Linked DNA regions of Homo sapiens. The protein of the gene in region 1 binds, or shares a complex with, the protein of each later gene. Each region holds a gene or a part of one and is shown on either strand. Other genes may lie near its edges. The genes, in order: DRC1, DRC8, DRC7 and DRC3.

Evidence for each region.
Region 2: DRC1 (region 1) and DRC8 share a complex: the UniProt entries of both Homo sapiens proteins name them as parts of the nexin-dynein regulatory complex.
Region 3: DRC1 (region 1) and DRC7 share a complex: the UniProt entries of both Homo sapiens proteins name them as parts of the nexin-dynein regulatory complex.
Region 4: DRC1 (region 1) and DRC3 share a complex: the UniProt entries of both Homo sapiens proteins name them as parts of the nexin-dynein regulatory complex.

Annotation. Positions count from the first base shown.
Region 1 is NC_000002.12:26,397,292-26,404,935, reverse strand, and holds the start of DRC1 (dynein regulatory complex protein 1), read right to left. Parts: upstream 3,017-7,644; 5' UTR 2,947-3,016; coding exon 2,792-2,946; intron 1-2,791. UniProt on the Homo sapiens protein: Component of the nexin-dynein regulatory complex (N-DRC) a key regulator of ciliary/flagellar motility which maintains the alignment and integrity of the distal axoneme and regulates microtubule sliding in motile axonemes.
Region 2 is NC_000001.11:245,084,663-245,088,352, reverse strand, and holds the end of DRC8 (dynein regulatory complex protein 8), read right to left. Parts: exon of another isoform or gene 1,594-3,690; coding exon of another isoform or gene 1,559-1,593; exon of another isoform or gene 1,109-1,558; coding exon 993-1,108; 3' UTR 516-992; downstream 1-515. UniProt on the Homo sapiens protein: Component of the nexin-dynein regulatory complex (N-DRC), a key regulator of ciliary/flagellar motility which maintains the alignment and integrity of the distal axoneme and regulates microtubule sliding in motile axonemes.
Region 3 is NC_000016.10:57,718,785-57,725,818, reverse strand, and holds part of DRC7 (dynein regulatory complex subunit 7), read right to left. Parts: intron 4,153-7,034; coding exon 4,080-4,152; intron 3,107-4,079; coding exon 2,978-3,106; intron 2,818-2,977; coding exon 2,689-2,817; intron 1,205-2,688; coding exon 984-1,204; intron 1-983. UniProt on the Homo sapiens protein: Component of the nexin-dynein regulatory complex (N-DRC) a key regulator of ciliary/flagellar motility which maintains the alignment and integrity of the distal axoneme and regulates microtubule sliding in motile axonemes.
Region 4 is NC_000017.11:18,003,845-18,010,878, reverse strand, and holds part of DRC3 (dynein regulatory complex subunit 3), read right to left. Parts: intron 6,517-7,034; coding exon 6,385-6,516; exon of another isoform or gene 6,375-6,384; intron 4,697-6,374; coding exon 4,626-4,696; intron 3,856-4,625; coding exon 3,732-3,855; intron 3,482-3,731; coding exon of another isoform or gene 3,434-3,481; exon of another isoform or gene 2,945-3,433; intron 1-2,944. UniProt on the Homo sapiens protein: Component of the nexin-dynein regulatory complex (N-DRC) a key regulator of ciliary/flagellar motility which maintains the alignment and integrity of the distal axoneme and regulates microtubule sliding in motile axonemes.

The DNA.
Region 1 (7,644 bases):
AGGATTAGAACAGGGTCTGAGTTACCATTGACACCCAGAGACCCAAAGCATGCTCCCACCCACTTAGAGTGAGGACACAGGGGAGGCAAAGTCCTACTTACAGAGGGTCTGCCAAGTCTGTGGACTCAGCCAGCAATCATGTCTCTAATGGCCAAAAGTATAATTGGGACCTACATACTTAGAAGTTTGAAAAACTCCACTCCTTGGCCTATAAATAGAGCTACCATAGTGGGGAAGGCCAAAAGGACATCTCTGAAACTGCACCTCAGTACACAAAAAAAAATATTGCCACCCAGGGGTGTTGGTGGGGATTAGTGCCACCCTGAAGTATCTCAACGATGCAGGAATGGTGATCCCTATTGAATCTCCTTTTAATTCATGGGTCTGGCACCTGCAGAAACTGGATCCTAGAAAGTGACTGTCAACTACCAGAAGCTCCACAGGTAGCACTCCTGAACACAGCATCTATGCAAGTGTGGTAAGCTTCACTAGAGCAAATTTGTACAGCCTCAGGCACAGTATGTGTGGCTACTGATTGGGCCAAATGCATGCTTTTCTACCTCAATCAGGAAAAATAATCAGGAAGTTCACATTTACATGGAACAGACAATGATATACACTCACAAGTCGGTCACACTCACAGGACCATGGTAGTTCTCCTGATCTCTGTCATAATATATTCTGAATATATCAGGGACATCTGGATATCCCAGAGAACATCACAATGATCCATTACTTCAGCACTGGCAAACTATGGCCTGTGGGACAGATCCAGTCCACCACCTGTTTTTGTATGGCTTCCAGGCAAATAATGATTTTTACAATTTTTTTTTTTTGAGACAGAGTCTCGCTCTGTCGCCCAGGCTGGAGTGCAATGGCACGATCTCAGCTCACTGCAACCTCCGCCTCCTGGGTTCAAGCGATTCTCCTGCCTCAGTCTCCTGAGTAGCTGGGATTACAGGCGCGCGCCACCATGCCTGGCTAATTTTTGTATTTTTAATAGAGACAGGGTTTCACCATGTCGGTCAGGCTGGTCTCAAACTCCTGACCTCGTGATCCCGCCCGCCTCAGCCTCCCAAAGTTTTGGGATTACAGGCATGAGCCACTGCGCCCGGCCCAATTTTTTTTTTTTTTTTTTTTGAGATGGAGTTTTGTGCTTGTCACCCAGGCTGGAGTGCAGTGGCGCTATCTCAGCTCACTGCAACCTCTGCCTCCCAGGTTCGAGCAATTCTCCTGCCTCAGCCTCCCAAGTAGCTGAGATTACAGGTGCCTGCCACCACACCTGGCTAATTTTTGTATTTTTAGTACAGACAGGGTTTCGCCATGTTGGCCAGGCTGGTCTTGAACTCCTGACCTCAGGTGATCCTCCTGCCTTGGCCTCCCAAAGTGCTGGGATTACAGGCATGAGCTACGATTTTTTACAATTTTAAATGGTTTTTACAATTTTAAATGATTTTTACAATTCTAAATGGTTAATAAATAAATGGTTAAAAAAAGACTAGGATGAATAAGCAGAGCACAGGGGATTTTTAGGGCAGTAAAAATATTTGGTATAATACTATACTGGTGGGCTCGTGTCACCATAAATTTATCCAAACCCATAGGATGTACAACACCAAAAAGAAACCCTAAGGTAAACAATGGAGTTCAAGTGATAACGATGCGCCAAGGTTCATATATTGTTACAAATGTGCCCTCCAGTGCAGGATGTTGACAGTAGCTGTGCATGTGTGGGGGCAGGGAGTATATGCGAATGCTATACTTTTTGATCAGTTTTGCTGTGGTCCTAAAAACTGCTCTAAAAAATAAAGTTTATTATTATTTTTTATCAAAAGAAGGCTATTTTGTGATACATGAACAGTATATGAAATTCAAATTTCAGTGTCCATAAATAAAGCTTTATTGGAACACAGTCATGCCCATTTGTTTATGTCTTGCCTGTGGCTGCTTTTGCAATACAATGGCAATTGAGCAGCTAGGAAAGAGGCCATATGATCCGAAAAGCCTAAAATATTTACTATTTGGCCCTTTACTGAAAGGGTTTGCCGGCCCCTGCATTCCACTGATGGCCCCGCAGCAATCAGCCAGGGTGAGCGAGTGATGGAAACACACTGCAGGGCTTGGTAAGACATGTGTGCTCCAGACGGTGGGCAATCAACCCTATGAAGGCCCAGGGACTGCCATGTCATTCAAGTTTGTAGGGGTCCAGTGGTCAGTGGGATGCTGGGATAGCCTATCAAGTAAAAAACAAATCTACTGCATTTTGCATCCTCTACAGAGAAGGAAACTCAATGCCTCTTAGGCCACTTTGGGTCCTAGAGACAATACATCCCGCACTTAGGAATATTATTCAGGCTGACACAAAAAGCTGCCAGCTTTGAGTGGTGCCTGGAACAAGAAAGGACCCAGGCCACAGTGTAAGCAGCCAGGCTACTTGGGCCACATGATCCAGCAGACCCTGTGGTTTGGAGGTGTCCGTAGTGGAAAAGATGCCATGTGCAGACCACAGTCGAACGCCACCACGCCCGATTAATTGTTTGATGTTTTATAGAGATGGGGTCTCTCTATGCTGCCCAGGTTGACCATCTCCAACTCCTGGGCTCCAGTGATCGGCCCGCCTCGGCCTCCCTAAGTGCTGGGATGACAGGCGCGCGCCACGGCACCGGCCCAGCGTTTTACTTTCCCATACTCTGCCTGAACCTTCCCGAAGAAATGTTTCTATTTCATCAGGAAACCAGCCCTTCTCCGGCTCCTGCGGCGCGGATCCCGCCCCGCCCGCCCCCGCGCTCACCGCCTCCGGGCTTCTAAGCGCGCAGCGATGCGGAGGCGCCGGGCCTGGATGCGCTCCTGAGAGTTGTCGGAGTGGACCGAGGGCGCGAGAATCTGGGTGGACAAGTGCTCGTCCACGTTCGGGTCCAGGGCCTCTAGGGACCCCGGCGGATTCATGGCAGGAGTCCCTGGTCCCTAGGCGGCTCCCTCCGCACCACCTCCAGACCTCAGGCTGGTTGCTAGGAACAAACCGTTGCCAGGGAGAGCGGTCACCGGAGCCACAGCCCGAGTGGTTGCGCGCGCAGCTCCCTGGGCCCAGCCTGCCGCCAGCCGCCGTTCCGGCCGAGCATCCCAGCCTCGGGCTGACGCCTCTCCCGCCCGTGGGATGTCAGGTCTGTTGTCAGGCCCACGAAGGCCCGGTCGTGTTAGCGGAGCTGTGGAGTCTCACCAGGAGACTAGAGGACTAAAGAACTGGACCAAGTTGTGGTTCATCACTTGCTGACCCTGATGATTAATTCATCTTCCATTCATTCATCAAATATTCCTCCAACTCATATTCACCAAATAAAATTGAGCGCCTACTCGATGCCAAGCGCTGTGCTTGGATACAGGATACCAACCTGCAATCAAATACTTATGAAAGAGGAAAAGTGGAATAGAGGAAAACAGTCCGTGGGAGGGGGGAGGGATAAAAGTTAGAAATGCGGAAGCACTATTAAATTCTCAACTGTCCCCAGAAAGGCGCTATCTTCTGGGCGTCTCATTGTCAACAAAAATAGTGTTCTCATTGAGAATTAAAACCTGGCGCGCTGGCTCATGCCTCAGCCTCCCAACACTTTGGGAGGCCGAGGTGGACAGATCACTTGAGGTCAGGAGTTTGAGACCAGCCTGGTGAACATGATGAAACCCCGTCTCTACTAAAAATACAAAAATTAGCTGGGTATGGTGGTGGGCACCCATAATCCCAGCTACTCGGGAAGCTGAGGCAGGAGAATCGCTTGAATCTGGGAGGTGGATGTTGCAGTGAGCCGAGATCGAGCCACTGCACTCCATCCTGAGCAATAGAGCAAGACTCTGTCTCAAAAAAACCCAACCAACCAACCAAACAAAAACTGGATACCATTTAACAGGGTTCTGTCCCATTAGCCCGTGGGGAATTAAGGGCACTGGATGAGCAGTGAGAAAGGGTGAGTACTAGTCCTAGCCCTGCCCTGCCACCTTGGGCAAGTCACAACTTCTTGAGGAGCATTTTCTCAGCTGTTAAATGATGCAACCCACAGACAACTGTGCGGCCAAGACGACCCGTCCTTTGTGAGTAAGAACTGCCCAGAGGCAAATGGAGTGGGTTTTTAAAATCAGTTCTTCCACGTTTGCAAGCAGTAGAGAGGTTTAGGAATGCCAAAACCATCCAACAGCTATAGAGTCTAACAGCAGCTGCCTGGATCCTTGTCTCACACCTGCCTAGGTGGTGGTGGTAGGAGCGGGGGTACTTGCTTCTAGGCTTCAGGGCCTTCTGCCAGATCTCTGTCTCCTTTGGTTGAAACCTAAAGTATTAAACTCTCCTAGGAGCCATGATACAGCTCTGACCAAAAACTCGTCCAGGTCCTGGTTCATGTTTCCACTATCCGTAAGGACAGAAACAAGCATGTGTGCATGCGCATGTCTATGCCTGGGAGTGGGATACCATGAGAAAGTCAGGGGGAATCAGCTGTTGCACAAGAGGTAAGTGAGAGCAAAGGTACCATACAAACCCATGAAGAGTGACCAGTGAGATACTTGGCCCTGCACTGTTCTGATACCACTTCCAACATCTTTTTATATAAGAAATCTGACTCCATTTTTTGCTGCTGACATTTGGCTGCTGGCAGCTTTTACGCAGCACTCCCTCTTTCTTCTCCACATCTGGGCAAGCTGTTAAAAAAAGCCTAGGTGCTCTTTTTGGTGCTGGCAGATTTCATCTGCGTGCACAGGATACCCTCCTCCCAGCCTCACCCCTTAACCACAATAAAAGCCCCAAGCTTGTCTCCTTTCCTGGCTCTCTCTAGCCATTTTCTGACCAGCTGGGAGGCCCTCTTTGCTCCCACAGGCAGCCTCAATTATGTAATAAACCTTTTTCACTGGTGTGGGAAACACTTTCACTCACCGCTGGAAAGGGACCTCCTAGGAGGACAGTTTGCCAAAATCTATTAACTGTTTAAATTGGCATACTAGGGTAAAGGGTGGAATAGGGAGAGATTTGTTAAAGGATACAAAATGACAGGTTCTAGTGTTCTGCACCACTGGAGGGTGACTATAGTCAATAACATAGTTTCAAATAGCAACGAGGATATTGAGCATTCCCAACACAAAGAAATGACAAATGTTTGAGCTGATAGGCATGCTAATTACCAGACCTGATCACTATACATTATATGGATTGAAATATTACTATGTACCCCATAAACATATATAACTATTATTTCCTTTTTTTTTTTTTTTTTTTTTTTGAGACAGCGTCTTGCTCAATTGCCCAGGCTGGAGTGCAGTGGCATAGTCTTGGCTCACTGCAACCTCTACCTCCTGGGTTCGAGCGATCCTCCTTCCTCAACTTCCCAAGTAGCTGGGACTACAGGCGTGTGCCACCATGCCCAGCTAATGTTTATTGTATTTTTAGTAGAGACAGGGTTTTACCATGTTGGCCAGGGTGATCTCAGACTCCTGACCTCAGGCGATCCACCCGCCTCGGCCTCCCAAAGTGCCAGGATTACAGGCATGAGCCACTCCGCCCGGCCTGCCGAATTTTTTTAAATACTAAAAATTTTTTAAACTGAACAAAGGACAGAGAGAGGAAGAAATATTTTCATGGGGCAGACAACTGTGGTTGTAGAGGTCAAAGGAATGAAACAAAGAGACAAAGAAAAACCACTAAACAAGAAAGTCAGAAGACATGTAATGAATTATGATTAAATATAAATGGGAAAATGCATGCTTAATTTTCCATGCCTTTGTAAATAGTTCATAAGTGAGTTAAATTTAGAAAATTGTTAAAAACTGAAAAAACTAGATAAAAACATATTTATTTGTATACACACAAAAATAAATTAGCATATCCATTCACTAGGCAATTCTAGTTTAAAGATCATCACAAGGAGATCATGGATCTAGCTATAGCTCATTGGGGTCACAACTATATCAGTTTTATTCGGTATTTTATACATAGCACCTAGCACAATATTTGATATGTAGTAAGTGCTCAACAAACTTTTTTTGAAAGAAACGTATATAGATGTATCTGTATGTCCATTCCAGTTACTTGTAATATTAAAAAACTAGATATGACAAAATCCATCAATAGGGGAACCGATAAAAGAATCATGGGATTCTCTAACACAAGAATAAAGGTGACCTAGAAAGACATCCAAGATACATTACATGAGAAAGGGAAGAGGCAGGCAGCACAATATAGAGCCTAAGCCGAGTTTGATTTGAAATGTAGACAGTAGTACACAAGAAAAACAGGGGGAATACCACAAAGTAGTCAATATCCCTCAGGGGTGGGCTTATGGGTGATTTTCAGATTCCCTGAAGATTAAAAAAAAATGTTTACAATGAGGATAAATCCCTTTTGACTCAATAAAACATAAAGCTTATTTATTCATGTTTTTGTAAGAGAAATAACAGGAGACCCCCAAGAGAGTGAGGCAGGCAAGTAGGGCTGTTATAGATGAGAGGGACTTGGGGAAGGGAGGCAGGTGATGTCCATTCACCTTGATGACTGACCAGCATCTAGAGTGTGGTCCTCAACTGGTAGGCAATGCTGGTTCATACTAATAAGCTCATACAGGCCGGGCACGGTGGCTCATGTCTATAATCCCAGCACTTTGGGAGGCCAAGGTGGGTGGATCACGAGGTCAAGTTCGAGACCAGCCTGACCAACATGGTGAAACCCCATCTCTACTAAAAACACAAAAATTAGCTGGGTGTGGTGGTGCATGCCTGTAACTCCAGCTACTCAGGAGGCTGAGGCAGGAGAATCGCTTGAACCCGGGAGGCAGAGGTTGCAGTGAGCAGAGATTGCGCTCTAGCCTGGGTGACACAGCAAGACTCCATCTCACAAAAAAAAAAAAAAAAAAAAAAAAAAAAAAAAAAAGCTCATACAAAAGCCTGGCTGGCTCATACTAACAAGCTCACAAAAGAAAAACATAGAATTTCTTTTAGCAAGCAAGTACAACCATCACACAGGGCAGTGTGCATTTTCGTGCCTTTCGTGTAGATCAGCCCACAGAGATGTGCTGGTCACAAAGAGGATCAAACTCTGACTGGGAAGTCCCTTGATATGTAGGACTGACTGCCATGGTTCAGAGGCTCACAATGGGGATAATCTGCCACAAGCACAGTCGAGTTCCTCATCCCTGAGTAGGTTTTTGAGGAATCTGGCTATATGGGCTTCCCTTGCTAAGGAAGGTATGTGGGCATCCACCTTCAGCTTTTATAGCCTTTTTTCAAAACAAGAAGGATGAACAGATTTGATTTTATATCTTACTAAGTCTAGTCACACTTAATTCTACATCCAATAAGTTTACACTAACTCACCTTAATTGGAATGTGAGGATGCTGACAAATTCATCATTTAGACAACTTCTTAGGTTATTTCTATCTTTCGATTTGTGTGAATTTTACTAATTAGATTCTGAGAAGGCAATCTTACCAATTTTTAATTTGGGGAACTGCCTTACCATCATCTTCATATACTGCCTCAAAAGGCATGAAGGAGGAAAGAGAGGGGAGGAGGCATGGAAGTCATGAGCTGTGTCACATGGTTTAGAAAAAAAGTTCAAAGAAAAAAGACAGAGAACTAGATATTAGTAGAAACCAAGCACCTACCTTAGTCCACTG
Region 2 (3,690 bases), on another chromosome or scaffold:
CCCGTGTGTGTGTGTGTGTGTGTGTGTGTGTGTGTGTCTTGTTATAACAGAATATCTAAGTTTGGAAAATTGTTCACTTCCCTTTACTTTATCTTCCCCTTTGCTTGTAAGTTGCCATATAGTTGCCATATAAGATGCCAAGATCGGAGAGAATTGCAAGGAGGAGGCAGTGGCCATGCCATATATTTTTCCATTGTGACTGCTTGTGCTTCATTCTGCTCTTTCAGGAGCTGTACATTTGCACACCATAACATTTCTCAGTATTCTTACTCAGTATTCAGGACAATGCTCCCATGACAGATATGCGGAGTGGGTGAGAATTCTAAAGACAAAGGGAGAATTGCCACTACCTTACACTATCAACTTCCACTCAACCTTCTTTTCTCTAGTTCCAATGATCTCAACTCCTTTAGCTACTCCATAAATGGTGACATGCTGGATCAGCAAATATAAATGTTTACACTAAGTTATTATTATCCCAAATGATATTTGTAATTGGCACTCATAAAAAAATAAATTAGTAATATTTATTTTGATAAATCACCTTCCACACTCAGATTGATGAAGCATTTGTTATTGTTTAAAAAAGAAGCCTTCATTACACTGCTACTCGTTTTCGAGTGGTTCGTTCTGCCCCCTCTTAAGATCTTTACATGCCAAACCTTGGGTAATTAAGTCATTTTCATTTTGTCAGCTTAATTAATTCGAAGGTGACCTGAGTTTTATTGTAGAAAATAAACAACAATCCATTCTAATGTTAAAATGTTTTAAGAATAGTTTTTAAATAAATAGTAATTTATCATTCTGTAAGGCTAGACATACTAAATTTGGTTTAAAGTGTTACGATCATCTTTAAAAACAAAGTGTCTTAAAATAGTTATGTCACAAGGTATTAAATATCACATATAGGAATCCTAAGATAAGATGTGAAATTAACAAGAACAAGCAATTTCTAAAATTGTTCTTTCAATCAGAAATTATCTTTAGAACATTTAATTTTCATCTATCACCATCATTGTTATATAGTCCTTGTAATTAATTGAATTTGATTCTGGATCAATTGCAGCAGACAACATTTCTTCCATTTCCTCTTGAGAAAAAGGCTCACCTCAGAGAGACAAAAAGGAAAATTTATCATTTAGGATCATCTGATTTTTTTCTCTTTCCACTAGCCAGCTTAATAGCCATGGAGCCCCACAAGCTCCCACAGTGCCACTAGTTACGCTCCCTGGAGCTGTAGAGCCAGGACATCACGACAGTCCAGAGGTTCAAAGACAAGGCTATTGTACACCCTGGTAGATTCTGGACTTCTTTTAGCCTGCAGATGTCATAGATCAAGCAACCTCTAGAACACGTCATTTCAGGCAAAACAGTAGGAAGACATACAGACATCATGAACAAGGTTATTTATTTAGATTAAAACTTTTGAAATTACCAGAGGATTAACTTGAAGCCCCAGTATTTGATGAAAGATGGAAGGAAGATAACTGAGTGGTTAAAGCACAAGTTTGGATCCACATGCTGGCTGCCTCTCACGAGCTCTGAGATCTTGAGCAAGTCACTTCACAGCTCCCCACCTTAGCTTACCTGTCTCTAGAATGGGGGTGATAACGACACCACCTGTCACATAGGGTTGTCATGAGAATGAAACGTGTTATGATTTGAATGGGACTTAGAACAGTACCTGGCATAGAAGCAGCAACATGCAAGTGTTTGTTTAAAAAATTGTTCTGAGATCTTCCCGGCTGCTAAACACTGTCTGATGCAATACACATTCCTGGACACTTAGGGACTTCTATCTTGTAGGAACTTGATTCAGTGTGATTTATTTTATCATATGACATCCAGGGCTGTAGGAATGCATATTCTCAAACTAGTGTGTTTGATACTTTGTGGATATTAGGATGAATGTGCAAGTAGCTTGAATCCATATTGTTATATAGCATAAATGTACTTAAAAACAATTTGTAGAATTCTGAGACTCTCAAAGCAGCAATTCTTAAGCTCCTATTTTACCAAACTAGTCAACTGCTATTACACTTAGCTGATGGGTCTGTTATATTAAATCGTAACTTAGATTTGTATAGATTTACATCTTACATATTACTTCCAAACATATTGGTTCATATATGTGGAAGGTTTGTAATAATACTTGCTGAGTGAATAATTGAAAACATATGTATTCTTATTTGACCATACCTGTCCTATGCTTAGTCCGCTGAGATACTCAATAGTTGATCTTTAAGTACCATGAACTCTCTGTAAACATACCATTTTCGAAATTATCACACAGCACCTCCAAGTAAACCACGTGGTCGCACTGTCTCTGTATACACTGCGGTCTGTTCTGACCTTTCTGTTTGAGTCAGTCTCATTACCATCATACTCGCCATCGAGGGCAAAGCCTTGGTGGTACTTTGGATTCAGCTCTCAGCTTTGTCGCCTACACTCTGTTACTCATCATGACCCATGGATCCTGCCACAGACAGTCCTATTGTACCAATCCCTTCTTCCCATTGCCATTCCCACTGCCAGGTCAGGCCCTTATTTGGGTGCCCTCAAAATGCTGAAATAACCTTCTAAGTGGCCTCCCTAGTCCAACCTCTTTCTTATGCATCTAACAAACCGACCAGCACCAGAAAAACCTTCTCACAATCACTCACACACCATGTGAGTCATCTGCTCAAAAGCCTGTAATACTTCTCCATCGCCCACAGGATGAATTCCAAACTCCTGAGCCTGGGACTCCACAATTTAGTCCCAGTAAGTCTACTGAAGTTAATTTCCTGCTGTTTGCCAACATTACCCTCTGGGCCAGCTAGGCTTATTTTCTCTCTGAAATAGCATGTTCATTCCTACCTCCCCATTTTTGTTCAGACTGTTTTACACATCGATAATGTCTCCCTCTCATTAGCCCCTTCACCTGGTCTTCATCATCTACTCATTCACTCATTCATTCAACAAACATTTGTTGATATCTACCATGTGTGACAGAATTATAATGCACAAGAGTTTACCTTTGCCCTCAACAATTTAACCATATACATTCTACCATCTCAAAAAACCTATTTTCTCTTTAAGTCTTCCCAAACCAAGTTTTCCAGGCTGGGCCAGCCCTAGTTGATCTTCTGATATTTAGCTTTCTATTGTCTTGTATTGTGAATTATTTTATGTTAGTTTTATTTCCCAAATAAGATTGTAATATCCTTGAGAGAGGAAGTAGATTTAAGTATCATTATACCTTACTACACTTACTAAATATTAAACATATAGTAGGCACACAACAGTAGGAAAATCTAACTGTTTGGGCCATTTTGACTAAATTCATGTTGCCTGATATATAACCTAGGATTTACTTTCTTTAGACTAATCCTCAGGATGAAGAAGCTGATGCTTTGAAAGTCGTAACATCCCCATCAGAATTAATCCCGAAGGTAATTTTAACAATGGCGTCAGAGTTCTTGGGTGGCAGCTGTGACGGCCTTGCCATTCTGACCCTCACTCTCTGTATTCCGCCTTAAGGTGGATGAAGCTGGAATGGTCAAACCAGTTGTGCGTGTAGATGCAGTCTTAGTCTTCCCTACTCAAAATCACTTGCGCTTTTCATTCTGCCTCAAGTGATTAGCAACTCTGAGTCATTCAGGACCCAGTCTGTGAACCAGAGAGCTCTAGCTTTGTATGGGAGAAGGC
Region 3 (7,034 bases), on another chromosome or scaffold:
AGATGGGGAGCTCACCACCTCTCCAGGCAGCCTACTCCATTGCTAGACATCCCTTACTGCTAGAAAGAGCTTCTTTGGCATGCTGCCATTACACACAGTTGCCAACTAATTTGTAATGACATGAAGGGGAAAATGCACAATTTCATGTTAAGTGGGTAATACAGGGACTCTAATCCCTGGGTCCCGATCTCAATTACATTAGAAAAAACTCTCAAAACCAAACCTATAATCCGTGGCAACATATGAGAGATGCCATTCTGAGATATGTTTACTTTTCTCTACATTTTTACATATTTTCCAAATGTTTAGTCATGAGTGTGTATTTTTGTATAACAATAAGGAAGTAACACATCCTTGGCCCCATGGCTGAGGGCACAGTCTGACACCAGACAACCCCAGGATGGCGCATTTGGTGATATGGTTTAGTTTCGTGTCCCCCCACCAAAATCTCACCTTGAACTGTAATCCCCATAGGTCAAGGGCGGGACCAGGTGGAGATAATTGAATCATGGAGGTGGTTTCCCCCATGCTATTCTCGTGATAGTGAGTGAGTTCTCCCACGATCTGATGGTTTTATAAGCAGCTTCCCCTTTGCTCAGCACTTATTCTCTCTCCTGCTGCCCTGATTCTAGTGAAAAGGACCCTTTTCACTAGGCAGAAGGTGGAAAGGACCCTTTTCACTAGGCAGAAGGTGAAAAGGACCCTTCTGCCATGATTTTAAGTTTCCTAAGGGCTCCCCAGCCATGCAGAACTGTGAGTCAAGGAAACTTCTTTTCTTTATAAATTACCCAGTCTCAGGTATTTCTTCAAAGCAGCATGAGAACAGACTAATACATTTGGTAAAATGCTTGGTTCATCATTGGTGCCCTTGGATATGTCTCAGGCCTTAATGCCACCCCAGAGCCAGGGCTCTCACCATTCAGAGGTGACATCAGCTGCCAGAGAAGGAGGGCGACCTGTCCCCAGCCCCCGCGAGCTCTTACCACAATGGGCCGGGGGTTTGACTCTGCACTGCTCAGAGTGAGCTTCTTGACTCGGGGTCCGAAGCTGGCATGGCGGTAGGAGAGGAAGTCTGGGCGTCCTTGATAGTACTCTGTCATTGTCCTGGGTGTCTCCTCCCGCTTCATCAGGCCATCCACACGGGCCGTTTCATAAAACTCAATGACACGGTCCATCTCAGGTTGCATGGACTTGTACGAGTGCACTGGGTGGGGAGCGGGAGTTGGGAGGAGACAGCTTCATAAGCACTAGGAAGTATGGCTGCTGGCTTGGTCGCCCAACCCCAGGCCCAGGGAGAAGACAGACCCACATTATGGATGAGGTTAGCTATGAACCAGTCCCCTATTGCTGGGTGTTTAGGTTGCGTACAACTTTTTCTGATTATTACCAACACCATGATGAACATCTGCATCGTGCATTTTTTGTTCTTGTCCATTATTTGCTAAGAATAAATTCTCAGCAGTGGAATTGCTGGGCCCAAAAGTGTACTTTTTTTTTTTTTTTTTTTTTGAGACACAGCCTCGCTCTGTCACCCAGGCTGGAGTGCAGTGGTGTGATCTCAGCTCACCGCAGTCTCCGCCACCTGGGTTCAAGTGACTCTCCTGTCTCAGCCTCCCAAGTAACTGGGACTACAGGCACCTGCCACCACACCTGGCTAATTTTTGTATTTTTAGTAGAAACGGGGTTTCACCATGTTGGCCAGGCTGGTCTCAAACTCCTGACCTCAGGTGATCCACCCAAAGTGCTGTGATTATAGGTGTGCGCCACTGTGCCCAGCCAAAAGCGTACACGTTTTATGGTCATTATCAATATTTTGCCCAACTGTCCTCCAGAAAAGTTCCAATCTGCTGTCCCATCAACAGTGACACAGAGTGACTGTTGCTCCCATACTTGTTCATACCCAGTAGGACCATTTTTTTCATCTTTGCCAACATGGGGGTTATAAGATGGTCCTTTATTGGTTAGGGACCTTATTAGTTTCTTTTTTTTTATTATCAACTTCCAAATGAGGTTGATCATTTAAAAAAAATGTATATTACTCCTATGCTTTTCTTTTGTAAATTTCTTGGTCAGGATTTTTTTTTTTTTCTTGAGACAGGATCTCTATCTGTCACCCAGGCTGGAGTGCAGTGGCATAATCTCGGCTCACTGCAGCCTCGACCTCCTGGGTTCAAGTGATTCTCCTGCCTTAGTCTCCTGAGTAGCTGGGATTACAAGCACATGCCACCATGCCTGGCTAATTTTTATATTTTTTGTAGAGATGGGGTTTCACCATATAGCCCAGGCTGGTCTTGAACCCCTGGGCTCAACTGCCCATGTTGGCCTCCCAAAGCGCTTGGATTACAGGTGTGAGCCCCTGTGTCCGGCACTGCCTCCTTTAAATGTGGCCTCCACCGTGTGACCCCATGGTGAGGTTCCGGCCTGATTCCAACCACAGAACGGGTATGTGGCGCCCCCTTTAGCTTTCCTGGAGGAGCATTTGTTATATTTCCTTAGAATTTCTGAGCTTTCCCTGACCTCCCACACATCGGGTTTGCTGAGGGAGGCAGGGCAGCTTCTACTGCTTGCTGCCCAAGAACCCATGTATAATATGTATGCTGGTTCCTGCCACCACATACCACCTGCCACAGGGTGTGTGAGGCCTCTACCCCAGGCTCCTGGGTGGCCCAGGAAAGGGGAGCCACGCACCGCGCAGAGCCTGGGGGTGGCCAGGCTTGAAGTAGTCTGTCTTCAGGTCTGTGGTCTTGTTTATGTGTTTCAGCTCCAGCATGTCTTCCCGGTTCTGGTACCACTCCTTTATCTCCAAAATATTGGTACCTGTGGGGCCGATGGACACTTGCCGCAGCCAGGCCAGCTCCCCTAGCCTTCAACCCCCCTTATTCCAGGCACACAGAGGCCAGCAATGACCCCAGAGAGAGTAGAAGCCGCCCCCGCCCCTGGGCTGGCCTGGACCCATGTCCAGAGCAATCCCCCTTACACTGCAAGTCCTCATAGGTGGTGAGGCGGCTCACAAGGCCATTGCTATTGAGGTACGGGGCCCACTTCTCCAGCTTTGCCCTCTTGTACTGAATCACCTTCTTCCCGTTCGGGCAGCGGGTCTCAAATGCTGTGGACACAGTCAGCTGTGGTCTCTTCTTGCTAGTTTGGGGGAAGGGAGGGCCAGCCCCGCCCAGCCATTCATCCATCCACTGCCCGTTCTCTGTGTACTGAACTCCTCCAGCCCCAAGCCTGATCCAGGGAGGCCGAGGAGAATAATCACCAGGGGTGGCTCCAGCCCTAGAGGGGTTCTCAGGCCAGGCAGAAGCACAGATCCACCCAAGAATGGGATTTGAGCCCCATCAGAGGGTCTGCCCTGCAGCCAACCACACTCTCACATTGCCAGGCCTTTGCTTGTACAGGTCTCTGCCAGAAACACCGTCATCCCCTCCTCCCCTTGTTGGACTGACTCCTTCAGATCCTTCCAAACTTCACCCAGGTGACCCCTAGCCTACTTCTGGTACCCCTTTCTGCTCACCCATCCCCAGGCCCTAGCCCCAGTGCTGGGCTGGGTGCGCCCCCCTCTGGGTTCCCATGACAGCCTCTCTGGCACTTCCCACCCTGTTGAAGTGGCCCATGCCCTCCCCATAGGTCTGGGTGCTCCCTAGGTGGGCACCAGCAGATATTGACATGGAGCATGACAGTCCCTGCCCTCCTGCCTTCTCTACCTGCCCCTCTCCGGTCCTGAGACCCCCCGCACCATCTGGGCACTGCCCATGGCCTCCTCTGGGTAGAAGAGTGTGAGAGGGGAATGGGCTGGGTTTCCAGGCCTTGCTGTCACCTACACGCCATCATCCCACACATGCTCACTGAACTGCATCGCCCCGTGTGCCAGACTGGTCGTCAGGCCCTCGGGGTCAGAGCTGAGTGCGTGTGGCAGGAAGGGGGGAGGGAGGGAGGGAGGGTGCAGCTGAAGGTGAGAAGGGTGGAAATGTGGGGCATGGCATTCCCTGCTGTGTCCCCCTGCCTCGCTGTTGCAGACCTCTCTGGAGGCCCAGGAACTGGATCTGGAGAGGATAAGTGAATACACAAATAGAAAATACCTTCCGGGGAGATCTCAATCTGCTCCACCCACGAGTGGGGCATGTCGAAGCTCTTATCCTCATCCTCCTTGCCCTGATGGGAGAGAAGGGGGTGGGGGAGGTGGTGCTGGTCAGGGTGTTGAAGCAGAAGTTATGGTCAAAGCTCTGTCTCTGCCTGCAGAGCCAAGCCAAGGTGGTCCGTTGGCTTCCGCAGGGGAACTGGAGGTCATGAGCACGACCCATGATGTGGAAAAGGAGGAGTCGACTCTGGGCAGGGAGCCCTTCCCTATACTTGCCTGGCTTAGGACAGCAGCACCCCCTGCCCTGGCTGCAGGCCCTTCGTGATTAGAGAGGTGTTTCTGGAGTCAGGGTACCCAAGCCCCACCCTCTCTCCAAGACCAGCTAAGGGGTCCTGGGCAAGTCCTTTAACTGCTCTAAGCCTTAGTTTTCTTAACTGTAAACTGGACCTTTTAGGAGGATTAAATGATATAATGTCTGTAAAGGCCTTGGGGCTCTGATTGGCTGACATTATTATTATTATTATCATTTGAGATGGAGTCTTGTTCTGTTGCCCAGGCTGGAGTGCAGTGAATCTTGGCTCACTGAAACCTCCGTCTCCCAGGTTCAAGTGATTCTCCTGCCTCAGCCTCCTGAGTAGCTGGGATTACAGGCATGCACCTACCACACCCAGTTGATTTTTGTATTTTTAGTAGAGACGGCCGGGGGAGGAGGGTGGTGTCTCACCGTGTTGCCCAGGCTGGTCTTGAACTCCTGACCTCAAATGATATGCCCACCTTGGCCTCCCATAGTGCTGGGATTACAGGCATGAGCCACCATGCCCGGCCTATTATTATTTCCTCTCTGAGCCTTAATTTCCCCATTTGTGAAATAAGGCCCGATCTAGATAAATGGTCCTCAAACTAGATAATCACAGAAACTTGGATAAGACTTTCTCGACTTAAAACCTTTTTTCCACAAACATTGCTCATACCTCTGACAACTGTTTATCTAATTGTGACATTTTGCAGGGGACAAAAATGAGTGAGCAGTCAGCAGTTAGTATTGTCAAAAATCTCTAAGATGGTCAGGTGGGTGGGCTGTCACCCGGGGTCTGGTTTTTCCTGGGGGTCCATGACTGGGTTCTGACTCTTTGGGCTGCCCTCTGTCCGTCTTTGCTGTAATGAGGGCTCTTGGGCCAGGGTGGACCAGGACTCTGTGACTGGAACTGTTTGATTATTAGCCATGTGGGTGCTCAGCCGGCTGCCTGCAGGGCTGGGCTCTCAGGCCCTGGCTGGTCCATGCCCCAAGGCCAGCAGGGGGCACCTATGCCTGGATTTACTGCACACAAGATGTCCCCAGTCTCTGGAGATGAGGATGCTGAGAACATTTAGCACCCTTTTGAGATGGTCTACACTGCTGTGCCAAGCACATCACATCAAGCAGCCCCAGGAGGTAGAACAGAGTTACCATTGAGAACCCAGACTGTGGAGCCAGACTGTGTAGGTTCAAATCCCAGCTCTGTCACTTACCAGCTGTATCGCTTTGGGTAAGTGACTTAACCTCTCTGTGTGTGAGTCTTCCCATCGGTAAAATGGGATAATATTAATCACAGGTGGTAATACCAGTGCCCACCTCACCAGGTGGCTGTGGGGATTTAAATGAGTTACTTCAGGTTAAGTAGATACAATGGATCCCAGTGCTTAGTAAGGACCATGTGAGTGCTACCTTTTGCTACGGGCTGAATGGCATCCCCCTAAAATTCATAGGTTGAAGTTTTAAGCCCTGAAAGTGACTGTATTTGTTTTATTTATTTTTCTTATTTTTTCTTTGTTGTTGTTGTTGTCTTGATCACTTACTGTTTGAATGATTGTTTTTAGAGACAGGGTCTTTAGAGAGGTGATTAAGGTAAAATGAGTTCATTAGAGTGGGCCCTAACCCAATATGACTGGTGTTGGTTGGGCATGGTGGCTCATGCCTGTAATACCAACACTTTGGGAGGCCAAGGCAAGGGGATCTCTTGAGCCCAGGAGTTCGAGACCAGCCTAGGTAACATAGCAAGACCATGTCTCTCTGAAAAACAAAAATTAGCTGGGTATGGTGGTGTGTGTCTGTAGTCCCAGCTACTCCAGAGGCCAAAGTGGAAGGATCATTTGAGCCCAGGAGTTCGAGGCTGCAGTGAGCTATGATCGTGCCACTGCACTCCAGCCTGGGCAACAGAGGAGACCCTGTCTCAAAAAAAAATAAAAAGAAAAATGACTGGTGTCCTTATAAGAACAGATTAGGACATAGATTTGTACAGAGGGAAGACAATGTGAAGACAGGGAGAAGACAGCCATCTACAAGCCGAGGACAGGGGGCTCAGAAGGAACCAACCCTGTCCACACCTTGATCTCAGACTTCCAGCCTCCAGAACTGTAAGAAAATTAATTTCTGTCATTTAAGCAACCGCATCTGTGGTGCTTTGTGATGCCAGACGAATGCACTTATTAGAATTACTATGAATACAACTATGATCCTTCTGCCTCCATTTCACATAAAGGCTGAAACTGAATTCAGAGAAGGGAGGCTGGTGATGTGGGTAAGGCCCTGGCCAACGACATTCAGAGGAACTGACAGAACAGACAAGAAAGGCCTGGCAGCATGTGGGGCTCATGATGGCTACTTGGGATAGAACTGAGAACAGCCAGCTCTGGGACTCCCAGGGGGTTGCAGAGCGGGGTGTTATGACCCCGCTCTGCAACTTTCTTTTTCTAAATTTATTTTTATTTTTATTTTTTGTGGTGGGGTGGGGTTGCGCAGGCTGGAATGCAGTGGCATGAACATGGCTCACTGCAGCTTCGGCCTCCCAGTCTCAAGTGATCCTCCTGCCTCAGCCTCCCAAGTAGCTGGGACAACAGGTGCATGCCACCACAGCCAGCTAATTTTTAAATTTTCTTGTAGAGACAGGGTCCCACTATGTTGCCCAGGCTGGCAAGG
Region 4 (7,034 bases), on another chromosome or scaffold:
GGAGAAGAGATAGATCTCTTCCAGGGACTTGATCTTCATGTCCTTGACCAGGCAGCCCAGCTTGGTGATGGGCATCCACTCCTTTGCCTGGACCTTGCCTCTGAGAGCTCCCCGCAGCCTCAGCCCCTGCCCTGACTATGGCCACAATCCTAGCCCCAGAAGCTGCTGACAAAGCTTCCATGGTTTCCCATTCCAGGCTTCTGGGCCCTCCTGCTGCCATAGTGTCATCTACCATTTGGTGTTTTCTTGGAGAAATGTGTGTCTGTTTTATGCCAGTACCATGCTGTTTTGGTTACTACAACTTTGTAGTATATTTTGAAGTCTGGTAATGTGATGCCTCCAGCGTTGTTCTTTTTGCTCAGGATGGCTTTGGCTCTTCAAGGTCTTTTGTGATTCTAAATTGTAGGATTTTTTTTCTATTTCTGCGAAGAATGTCATTGGTGTTTTGATGGGGATTGCATTGAATCTGTAGGTTGCTTTGGGTAGCAACAAAGTGACTTTTGAGAAGGCAACAGCTGGTGCCCCTCCCCAGGACCACCGCACTGCTAGTGGCTTGAGGACTTGCTGCCCCATGGCATGTGGGATCAGATCATTCCATCATACCCACAAAGGGCACCTGACAACCCTGCATTCTCCTCTGCCACAGACAAATGAGCAGCTTGGCTTGATGGGCAGGGACAAGCCAACGCGGAGTCTCCTGGTGCCAGCCAGAATCTTGTGGCAGTCTCCCTGTCCAGAGACTGCTGGCTTGGGTCAGACCCACTGCCACTTGAGCAGACCCTGGGGACTTGCATCCTCCCTGGGCCTGAGCACTCACCCTGCCCTCGCAGCCGGATACCCGCGTGGATGTTCAGAGCAGCCAGGCAGCACCTCTGTCCTCCCCACCTCCCTAAATGGGCAGCTGTGGCTGCCAGCACCACTCAGATGCCCTCCCTCAGTGCCAGCTCCAGGCTCTCTCCTCAGCATGTACGTTCTGCTTTTCCTCTCAAAGCTGGAAGGACTTGAAAATAGATATGGGACAGATTGGCCCCATGTAGGTCATGAGCTGATAACAGTCACTCAACTGCATGAGTGGAGTTTTAGAGATAACCTCATCAGGGTGACTTATCAAGATATGCTCCTTGATAATTAGGTAACAGAAGCCAGGTTTTTTTCACCCACAGCCCTAGTCCCTCCTCTGAACATCCCCATCTTGCTATACAGTAGACATTTTGTCAAAGGCTTTCAATCAAACTGCCTGGTTCAAATCACAACCCTATCTGTTATAAGCTGTGTGTCCTTGGGCAGGTTACCTTCATCTCTGTGCCTCAGTTTCCTCATCTGTAAAAGGGAACCATAATAGTACCTACTTTTCCGTGTTGATGTGAAGATTAAAAAAGCAAACATGAGTTCAGTGCTTCCCAGAGGGCTGGCCCTCAGGAGGCCCCCAGTCAAATGTCAGCGATGTATTATTCCTTTATTTTATTTTATTTTTTTGAGACAGGGTCTTGCTCTGTCACCCAGACTGGAGTGCAGTGGCACAGTCATGGCTCACCTTGACTTCCCAGGCTCAAGTAATCCTCCAACCTCAGTCTCCCAAGTAGCTGGGACCACCAGGTGCGCATCACCTAATTTTTAAATTATTATTTGTAGAGAGGGGGTCTCGCTATGTTACCCAGGCTGGTCTCAAATTCCAGGGCTGAAGCAATCCTTCCACCTCAGCCTTTCAAAGTGATGTTGGTATTACTCATATAGTCAGAGCATACTTTTTCCTCCTGAGAAGGGTAGGTCACATTTTTTGTTGCTTAGATGGAAGGAGACTTAGGCCATGGTATAAGGTCCTGGGGAGTCTCTTCCTATAACTGCAGGCGTAAAGCCACAGGAATGGTGGTCAGCTGGCACCAGGCAGAGCCAGCTGGGCTGGAGGGAGGGCTGGCCACTGAAAATGCCAGCCCAGCCTGCTTCTCTGCTGTTGGCCTCTGGATTCATCTTTTTCTGTGTGTCCTAGTCATTAGAAATTGGGCACGTTTCAGTCCTGTGCCTTCTGGGTGTCACAGACATGGGAGCTGTGCTGGGAGGGATCTCCACCCACCCCAAGATGGTCTGTCTGGGGAATTCCAAACTGGGCACTCAGGGACAGCCTTACTTCACAGGGAAGGTGGTGTTTTCCTGTGTCTGGTCAATAGCAATTAGCTGCAGTTATCAGCTTAGGGAGGGAAGGCTGGTGTCACGGTGACCCTATCACCACACTGCTATGTTGGGTGTCTGTCTGGGCCCCAGGACAGAGGCTGTGGAAGTCAGGGACTGCTGGTCCTGTGTGTCTGCAAGACTTAGCCCCATATCTGGCAGAGTGGAGGCTTGGTGAGCATACGCTCTCACACTCATTCTGCAGATGATGCCTGGCATCTGTGCTGCATGTTGTACACTGTTGCTGGTACTGAGGGGGTACATGGTGGTGAAAAGGCCATCCCCGTCCTCCCTCCTGAGCTTACATGTAGTGTGAATAGTCACATCAGCAGCAAATACACATCAGCCAGGTAGTTTGAAACTATGATGAGGCTCTGACCTGACCTGATAAATGGGGCATGTGATACAGAGACAGTGGTTTTTCTGGAAGTTGATGAAGAAAGGCCTCTCCCAAGAGCTGATAGTCAAGCTGAAATCTGAATGACAAGGACAAGCCAGGCACATGGGGACCTAGGAAGAGCGTGTCTGCCAGGTGGAATATCAACTGAAAGGAGCAAGCCTGGGTGACTGGGGAAGAGCTCAGAGGCTGCCGCTGAGCATCAGGAGTGAGGGTTCTGGGGGTGGGAATCGCCCAGATGGGCAGGGTCAGCCCGAGGGTCTGGGGGACTATGGGGAGGAGCTGACGCTAGGGGTCATGAAAGCCACTAGAAGGTGTTGTGTAAAAGTGTGCAGTGATAGGGTTTGGGTTTTCAAGGGTCCCTCTGGCTGCCACATGGAGGACGGACTGTAAGAGGACAGTAAAGAGGCAAGCAGTCCAGGCCAAGGACGATGGTGGCTTGCCTTGGTGGTGATGTCGCGACAGAGAGAAGCTGAGAAACTGGCAGTGGAGTGAATGATGCATGCACTAAAGCAGGCCCTGACAACATAGTATCTCTGTCTGGGCCCTGACAACATAGTATCTCTGTCTGGGCCCTTGATGCCCACACTCCTTCCAGAGACATAGACATGCTGCCGCGGGACCCAGCGCAGACATCCGGGAGAGCCTTCTTAGCGTGCAGACCCCAGGGATGGAGCCAGGTTCCTCAGGCCGACCCTGCTGATTTTGTGACCATTCATCAGTGGATGTGCTGGTGCAAACCGGATGGCATTGTGCAGGATCAGAAATGGTGGTTCCAACACCCCCACAGTACTCATTATACAGACTCTAAGGTTAAGAAGACCTCCAGGGGAAATCTCAGACTTCAACCTCTACCTGTAACTGCTTCTCTTAGAAAGTGCCAGAAGCCTCCACATAATTGAACTTTTGGAAACGACCCTGTTGGAAAGTTGAAACCATCTAATTATCATGAGCTCCTCTTTAACTGGGCCCCACTGGGTGCCCCACCAGGTGCTTTGTTAGCCTATTTTATCTGCCAGCAACCCTGTAAAGCAGGTTAGTGTGCCCTTTTGCAGATGAGAACACTGAGGCTCTGGGAGGTTGTCAGGCTTACTCACAGAGCCTCAGTCCAGCCACAGAGCTGGGCTGGACCACATCTGTCAGGCTCCGAGCAGCCCGCCCCGCCTACCGCGCGCAGGTCGTTAGGCAGGTCCTCGTCCAGGTCGCCCTCGACAATCTTCTCCAGGGTGCTGATAGAGATCTCCAGGAGCTTCTCGTGGTGGTGATTCTCCAGGTCCCGGCACTGAGCCATCGTGCAGCCCCGAGTTAAGCAAAGGCCCGGGAGGAGCAGGCCCGGCGCGTCCCTGATGCTCTCAGACGGCGGGAGACAGACTTTAAGGGCCCAAGGCGAGCTCGGAAATTCTGGCTGGCAGCACCGTCCACTCACAAGCTCCGAACCCTGGGCCTTCCTCGACTCCCTGCCCCTGCCCCACACCTCGGACGGACCCTCGGCCCCTGCCATCACACTCTTCTCTCCCTCCTGCATGGAGGCTCCTGGCCTCTGGGTTAACTGCTTCTCACCCTGTGCATTTGGCACCACTTGTTGCCTCTACAACTTGTCTCCCTGAGGGACTGTGAGCCCCAGGAGGGCAGGACCACAGGGCTGCTGCTAGCTGGAGCACAGCAGTTTGCCCCATGTGGAGTGCCCTGAGTTCGGGTGGAAGAAGGGTTGGCCATGCTCCGATGTTGGCTCCTCACCCTAACATTTCACCTGATGTACTCCTTATAGTGTCTTCCACGTGGGGGTTGCCTCAACCCCAGAGTGTGCTTGCCTGCAACACAGGGGGCGTCATTTCCTAGTGAACATCACTCATATGAGAACAATCATGCTGGGAGCCTACTGCAAACAGTTTGGATGTTGTCCCTCTGGGCATCCAAACCACAGCTCTAACCAGGCCATCATTGTTCTGAGGGTCGGGAAACCTCCTCAGACCCTGTGGAACATTCTTTTGTCCAGAGGCCGGGACAAGCCCAGGGGCTCTGTAGCACCTCCCCATGGGGAAGGTCATCACAGAAAGGATATAGGCTTTGGACATTTTCGATAAACAGTCCTACCATGTCAACAATGTTCCTTTCAAACATGTTTATAGTCTCCTGGAAATGTTAAAGAACACAGTTAACATGCATATTTAGATGTCCAGCACAGAGCAAAAGGTACTCCTCAAAATTTAGCAACCAGCTCCTCTAATCACAGACCTTCAGCATAAAGACCACCCATCTTGACCCTCCTGAGCAGATGGTTGTGAACTGACCCCTCTGCTCTCTCTAAAGTTGTTGTTCTCCAACCATATTAACTCCCTCACCATCTGAATGTTTAATGCTGTCACCGGAACTTTGCCAGGAACACTTGTCCTGGTCTTACTCCCCTTACCTGCCTGCCCAACACACACACACACAGCCAACCCCCTCTCCTTTGGGTTTCCCAGTGACATCTGTGCATCACCTCCAGGGAAACAGTGGAGTGAGCTGTTAAGAGCTAGACTGCCTGGGTCAGTATTCCCAGCTCCAGCACTCTGTGTAACTCTGGGAAAGGCATTTCACCTCCTTGGGCCTTATCTTCCTCATCTGGGAAATAGGTTACCTGCATAATCCCTGCGTTGTGGCGTTGTGGTGAGGTTAAATGAGTCACTTCACACAAAATGCTTTGCAAGGTGCCTGACAGAGAGGAGGCCCTCAGTAGGAGCGGGCTGGCACTCCAGATCTCTTTCAGTTAGTTGCTGTTTTGTGGTGCTTAGCAAGGCACCTAAGGCCCAAATGGGAGTTAGTGTTGATTGAAGGAACAATGGAAGATGTGATCTCCAGGCCTGCCACTCTCGGAGTGCCCCACTCCCATCTGCTATAGACTCCAGGGGCTGCAAGGTGGGCAGGGGTGGAATCTATAGGAATGTGAGTACTGTCTGCAGAGTGAGCACCTCACATAATTTTCAAACACATGTATGTGCTGTTCTCGTGAATAAAAATAGGGTCATTGAAAAGCATGATTGCGCTTGTGGCTTTCTGGCCACCAGTAATACAAGTAGGATGGCACATGGGTTCTGGGAAATGTTTGGATGTTGAAAGGCAATCTCCGTGCCTGAAAAGGCTGGGAGCTGCTGCCTCACTCGCCCCTGGCACTGTGCGCTGCTTCTGCAGTGCCTGTGCTCTCCAGCAGGGAGGGAGCACCTGCCCTGTGATGTGATGGGGAAATCTATCCCATGTCTGAGGTGTCACTTGACGTGTGAGGAATTGATTAGGTGCTATCACTTGGCCCAGCCACAGCAGCATCCGATGAGGTTCAATTCATCACACCACTTCAGACTCCCAGCCTCCGCTGCCTTGTAACACATACTCTGGCTGCTAATGAATTTCAGACAGCGGCGCTTTTCATTTTCACTACTTAGTGCTGAGTTGCAGCCTCCTCACGTCACCTGAGAAGCGGCAACTGCAGGCTGCAATGCGGAGGGGTCTTTGTTTGGTCCCCAAGTGGGGGTGCGCTTTGCCTTTAGAGTACCCGGATAGCTCCAGGGGTCTAATCAAAAACCTCTCCCCACTGACTTCCAGGATAGGGGGACCATTTCAGAAGAATGAGCTCACCTCTCATTTTCCACAAGAATCACTTCCAATGTAAATGATTAAAATGTAATAAAAGCAAACAGGACTGATGAGCAAGAAAGCTACAGCCTGCCACGCTGAGTCGTGCTGGACGTTTCCAGCAGAGGCGTGCCCATGAAGGCTACAGTTCACCTATGGATGTGCAGCTGCATCGCCAGATTCTGGCACTTGTGCCCAGGGCCCAGCCTTACCTCCAGCTGCTCCACCAGCTGCATCTCCAGCGTCATGAGCGCATCGAACAACTCACTGATGTCAGCACTGCATTCTAGGATCATCTTCTCAATGTTGGGCAGTTCCAACTCCTCTCGAATGGCACTTAAACTCTAGAAACAATAGACTGCACTTTAGGAATCAACAACTAAGTGTAATTAGATAATGGCAGGTGGCAATTTGGTTTTGTGGGTAAGAATTTGGACTCGAGTCAGCCTGCCCAAGTGCAAGTCTCAGCTTTGCCATTTGCTGGCTCTGAAAGCGTGTAGAAGCTACCTACCCTCTCCATGCCTCAGTTTCCTGGTCTGTAAAGTGCGATTGATAGCCCCTACCCTTGACACAAGTGAGAGAACACATGTGAGGCTCTTTGAGCACTAGCAAGTGCTCACTCCCTGTAAGCTCAGGTTTTTATTAGAGGCTGGTAGGCAGGGTAGAAGGAGCCATGGCTTTCATGGGGTTCAGAGCATTTCACACCAAAATATGCCGCTTTGGCATAGTGATTATTTTGAGTTAAAGATACTTAAAGGCCGGGAGCAGTGGCTTATGCCTGTAATCCCAGCACTTTGGGAGGCCGAGGTGGGTGGATCATGAGGTCAGGAGATTGAGACCATCCTGGCTATCACAGTGAAAC